Regions from separate parts of the Homo sapiens genome. Here region 1 is linked to region 2. The links come from fine-mapping of genetic effects on gene expression. A gene starts in region 2. The other region holds a variant in brackets. All regions are shown on one strand. Distances are between the middles of the regions.

Region 1 (2,882 bases), 42 kb before region 2:
GACTCCGTCTCAAAAAAAAAAAAAAAAAAGACCAAAATAAATGTTAAGCATTTAAAAAAAACTGACGTTCTGAGTCCTTTTCTCAGAGAAGCACATATTCTGACAAGTTATATTCTAGATGAAATTGCTTCTTGACTCTAAGCATCTAGGACTCTTTAAAAAAATTATTATAAAAATGTTCAAGCATTCATTAGAGACAAATGTAAAAAAAAAACTTTATGAATCTATCATCCAGTTTCAACAGTTACCAACACATAGCCAATCTTGTTTCATTAATCCCCCTGCACCCACTCTGTTTGCTGGTAATTTAAAGTAAATCCCACACATCTATCATTTTCCCTGTAAATACTTCAAGGCATCTTTAACTAGTAAGGATTTTTTTAAAACATAATCACAATGCCATTACTATGCTTAACAAAATGACAGCAATTTCTTAACATCATCTGAAACCCAATCATACTCAAATTTCTCCAACTGTCTCAAAGATGTCTTTTTTCAGTTGGTTCGTTCCCATCAGAATCCACACAAGATTCACACATTGCATTTGGTTATGTTCTTAAATCTCTTAATCTAAAGCATACATTGAATCCCTCTCCCTCTTCTTTTTTATGCTACTTATTTGCTAAGACAATTGAGTCATTTGTCCTATAGAATATCACACACGTTTTGGATTTCTGTGGTAACGTGTTTCTCTAGCCTTCAGAAAGTGAAAGTTAATTCTAGAAGTTTGATTAGTTTCAAAAATAATATGGTAGTCATTTCATTTAAAAAAATAAGAGGAGGCATGCAATATGTAGCAGTCTTTGAATGATTTAATAATTTTAAGATTTATCACTGAGTTCAGGGTTCACTGGTGTGATTCATCCAATTTTATACCTTCCTACTATCCACTTTCTCTTCCACCTAATGGTTTCAAACACCCACTGATAATTTTAAACATCACTCACCCATTATTGTATTAGGAGCTGAAAATGATGCTTTGTAACTTGTTTTTT[G/GT]TTTTTTTTTTAGCCAGGGTCTCACTCTGTCACCCAGATTGGAGTGCAGTAGTGCGATCTTGGCTCACTGCAACCTCCGCCTCCCAGGTTCAAGTGATTCTCACACCTCAGCCTACCTAGTAGCTAGGACTACAGGTGCTCACCACCACACTCAGCTAATTTTTGTATTTTTAGTAGAGACGGGGTTTCACCATGTTGGCCAGGCTGAGAACTTTATTTTTATTATTCAGCATAAGAAGGTATAAAGTACTGATCATGTCGCGATCTGGATGAACCTTGAAAATATTATGCTTGGTGAAAGAAGCCAATCACAAAAGAGCACATATTTAACTAAAGCTTCCGTTTATATAATATGTCTGGAAGATAGGCAAATCCATAGAGACAGAAAACATATTAGTATTTGCCTAGGGCTGTGAAGGCGAAAGAGAATGGGGTGTGATTGCTAAGGAGTACAGGGCTTCTTTTGGCGTGAATGAAAAAAAAAAAAAAAAAAAACATATATATATATATATATATATATATATATATATATATATATGTTTTTTTTTTTTTTTTTTTTTTTTGAGACGGAGTCTCGCTCTGTCGGCCAGGCTGGAGTGCAGTGGCGCGATTTCTGCTCACTGCAAGCTCTGCCTCCCGGGTTCACACGATTCTCCTGCCTCAGCCTCCTGAGTAGCTGGGACTACAGGCGCCTGCCACCATGCCTGGCTAATTTTTTTGTATTTTTAGTAGAGACGGGGTTTCACCGTGTTAGCCAGGATGATCTTGATCTCCTGACCTTGTATATTTTAAACTTGGGTTGTGGTGATGTTTGGACAATTTTGTGAATATAATAAAAACCATTTATTCAATGATTGAGTTTCATGGTATATGAATTATATCTCAAGAAATATGTTAAAAAGAACTTTATGGGCTGGGCGCAGTGGCTCGCGCCTGTAATCCCAGCGCTTTGGGAGGCCGAGGTGGGTGGATCATTTGAGGTCAGGAGTTCGAGACCAGCCTGGCCAACATGGTGAAAACCGTCTCTACTAAAAATACAAAAAAATTATCTGGGCAGTAGTGGCATGCACCTGTAATCCCAGCTACTTGGTGGGGCTGAAGCAGGAGAATCGCTTGAGCTTGGGAAGTGGAGGTTGCAGTGAGCCAAGATCATGCCACGGCACTCCAGTCCGGGCAACAGAGACCCTGTCTCAAAATAAATAAATAAATAAATAACTTTCTCTCAGTCATCCATTTGGTTATGGTTATTTTCAATAGTTTATGCCAGAAAGTTTGGACAAATATTTTGTTTTCCTTTCACAGTAATGAGTTGGATACCCTAACAACCTTCAGTGATGTTAACGCCTTTCAAAGCATTTTTATGAACTCATGGATATTTACGTATTCAATGCGTATAAATCTATTGCATTCACTATTCTTTTCGATGTAAGCATTGTTTCACCTGTGGCCACTGGGCACTCCTTCAAGGTAGCTCCTGGGTCTTATTGACAGGACCCCAGCAGTCTTTGATGCTTCCCCTGCTTTCTGGCATAAGATAGCTCAGGTTCAACATGACATTTACTGCCCAAGAGCTGGAATCAGCCACTTCTCCAAAGAGACCTGGTTTTTAGTGGGCAATGGTATTAGGAAGCATAATCTGAGTGCTAAGGATGCTAATTGCTACTGAGGTGTCATTGCTTCAAAGACCTTTTCAGTGGACAGAATTAGGAAATACTTCTTAAAAAAAATAATGAATTCAAAGTACTATTTCCAATTCAAATTTAATGCATGTTTTGACTTGAATTTTACACTTGTATCTTGTTTTGGTCTTAGGTTGAAAATCTTGGTTTCTACTGACACTAACATCATAACTTTAAAACGTGATATTTTATAATACCAATTTCAAAA
Region 2 (2,915 bases):
CTTATCACAGGACCAGTTCTAAACCGATACCACTAAGAAAGCGACTGGCGCTGGCACTGTAGACCCCATGCCAGGCTGCTTCTGGGAGGGACCCGGGGGTGCTGCCTAGGGAGAAGGGCTTAACTACTCTGACTTCCACCGAAGAGTTTCTCAGAGAATGCGCCCTCGCAGCTTTCCCTGAATAAACATTACCAGGACTTACAAGGTGCCTAGCACTCTGCCAGAATCATGTGAATTTCAGAGGAAAATACTCGTTCACACATCTCAAGGAACGCACAGGCTCGTGAGGGAGCATTCTTGCCAATGCACATGGTAAATGCCCAATCGATGTTCGCGGAATGTCAGAAACTGACAACTAGTTCAGGCCTCAACGCAGTAGGAAAAGGATGAAAAAGAAACTCATTTTAAATCAACTAAACAAGTGCAAAAGCCATACATATAAAGGAGAGGAGATACGAATGGCATCACAACATAATTCCTTTGCCATCGAAAACTTCCATGCCTTTGAGGTTTTAAATGAAGACTTCCAAAACTGATTTACTTAAGACTCTACGTAAAACGCCTGATCTTTAAACGCAAGAAAAGCAAGATGAATGTATTACTTTCCTGGAAAAAAAAAGCATTAAAGGAGAAAAAAGAGTAAAGTGTACTGATGGGGCTCTTGGTGGGTTCTCACATCACAGGGCACTGCAGCTGAGACTTGCTTGAACGGCCCCCGTTTTCTACCCGCAAATTCTCAATTGCTAGATAAACAACAATAACAACACTTTATTGGGCGCTCATCGTGTCAAACCCTGTGTTGAGGGCTCCATTCCTCAAGGTCCATTTTACCGGCGAGGAAGCCCCGGCTCCGGGAGGGGAGGAGCGCGCCCAAGGTCACCAGCCAGTTGAGTGAGTGGCGGGCGGATCCCAACCCCGAGCGACGCCCACGGCCTGTCTCGGCCACCAGCGTGTTCCAGCGAGCGCCCAGCCACCTCGCTCGCAGCCTCCCCAGCGCAGCAGCCCGGCTGTGGGCCTGCGGCAGCCGGGTCTTCCTGGTCCCCACCTCCTGGGGCCGACGGGCGGCAGGAAGGGGCTCGGCGGGACGCGCCATCAGGGACCTGAGGAGGAACAACGGAACGCGTTCGGAACGGCCTGGACTCCCGAGACTCACCCGACTCGTGGCCACACCGGGAGAACTGAAGCGGCAGTAGCCGGCGGAGACGCCCGACCCGAAGGCCGGCTGCTAGGGAGCAGACAGCTGAACCGCTTGCCAGACGCCGAAACCCAGTGACGCCCTCCACCGCTCCACCGTGCTCCCGGCTCCTCGCCCCCGCCGCCCGCGGGCCCCAAGGCGCATGCGCCGCCTGTCCTGGAGGGGCCCATTTCCGTCCGTCGTGGGGGGAGGCACAGTGAGTCCACTGGGGCACGGCAGCGTCTAAGCCACAAGCCGAGCACATAAGCCAGGTCCTAACGGAGCCTATGTGTAAGTCCACTACTGGTGCAAGGTTGCACACTTCTAAGAAGAGCGGCGTGGGGGGCTCGGCGACCTTCGCTTCAGTCGCTCCCCCGTGCAGTCCCCTGTGCCCAAGACACAGCCTGATGCTTGTGCTCCGGTGGGCGGAGCTTGGAGGCGGCGGGAACTGCAATTGGTGGCTTTGAAGGCGCGGCGAGCGGGAACAGCTCTTGAGGAGTGAGACTGCAGGAGATGTGGGCCGGTAAGAGAGCCCCGGGCGGCACTGGATCGGGCCCCGGAGGGTGTGGGGCCTTGAGGAAGCCAGATCCCAGGCCTCGGGGGTGGCTTTTTCGCAATTGTCGCACGTTGTGAGGCGCAGGATTGGCGCTGGGTCTCGGGCTCGGGGCGAGGAACTACGGTTCGGGCCGAGGTGAGGGGGCGGTGGCGCTGTGCCGGCTGTGACGTCACCTCGCCCGCGGTGGGGCGGGTGGAGCCTTTCGTAGGCTCGCGACTGCGTCAGGGGAGGGCCGTGTGGTCATGTGACCAGGGGCTCCGCTCTACGATCCTGGGGTTGCTTCCTTTCCCAGAGTTGGGGTTTTGCTTTTCTGTCACCTCGGCTTCCGTCGTTTTTTGTCCCTGTACCCTCTTGCGTTGCTCCTCGCATTGCCTGTTGGAGCGCAGCAGAGGTGTGTGGCTACGGGAACGTTACTTAAAATGGATCTTTTTGATCATGCGTTCCACAGATCTTGAGCATCTACTGTATGTCAGACACTAAAACGCTAGGAAGTATAAAGAAAGTTTTAAAATGGGGCCAGGCGCGGTAGTTTACGCCTGTAATCCCAACACTTTGGGAGACCGACGTGGGCGGATCACCTTAGGTCAGGAGTTCGAGACCAGCCTGGCCAACATGGTGAAACCCCGTCTCTACTAAAAATACAAAAATTAACCGGACGTGGTATCGGGTGCCTGTAATCCCAGCTATTTGGGAGGCTGAGGCAGGAGAAGCGCATGAACCCGGGAGGCGGAGGTTGCAGTGACCCGAGATCGCGCCACTGCACTGCACCCTGGGCGACAAAGCGAGACTGTGTCTCCGAAACAACAAAAAAAGGAAAGTTTAAAAATGGTCACGGGGTAAACGTTTACTAAAGGGATTTCCGTCTTAATTGGTGAGACTGAGGGCGCTCTACCAAATTTCTTTAGACTGGCGTTCTGCAAACTTTACCCGGAATAAATCATCTGACGTACTTTTTAAAAGATGCTAAATCTCAAGCCCTCCGTGCGCCCTCCTCACAGTTTAATTTGATAGGGCCCAGGAATCTTCATTTTAACGGGTAGCCTCGTCTGTGGGTTTTTTTGTTTGTTTTTTGTTTTTTTGAGACGGAGTCTTGCTTTGTCGCCCATGTTGGAGGGCAGTGGCACGTTCTCGGCTCACTGCAACCTCCTCCTCCCGGATTCAGGCTGTTCTCTTGCCTCAGCCTCC

Alleles and levels. Positions count from the first base shown, and alleles are read on the strand shown. Sizes are in standard deviations (SD) of each study's normalised expression.
For the expression in fetal neocortex of the gene that starts at base 1,305 in region 2, G is the low allele of the variant in region 1 and GT is the other (moderate effect, 0.43 SD a copy in Walker 2019).

What was found. PIP is the estimated chance that this variant, and not a neighbour inherited with it, causes the effect.
Region 1: its variant is the best candidate, but not a certain one, in a credible set for the expression of CMC2 in fetal neocortex (Walker 2019, PIP 0.83).

The regions. Positions count from the first base shown.
Region 1 is chr16:80,963,712-80,966,593 of GRCh38, forward strand. CMC2 (C-X9-C motif containing 2) reads right to left here. Exons shown (of 4, transcript NM_020188.5): 4 at 2,737-2,882. Among named protein-coding and RNA genes, the nearest start is that of CMC2, 42 kb to the right of the region's middle. The variant G/GT (reference allele first, on the strand shown) is at 996.
Region 2 is chr16:81,005,581-81,008,495 of GRCh38, forward strand. It overlaps CMC2 (C-X9-C motif containing 2), which reads right to left and starts at 1,305. Exons shown (of 4, transcript NM_020188.5): 1 at 1,154-1,305. CENPN (centromere protein N) reads left to right here and starts at 1,634. Exons shown (of 11, transcript NM_001100624.3): 1 at 1,634-1,697. RefSeq lists a silencer at 1,043-1,412 and enhancers at 1,583-1,692, 2,003-2,142.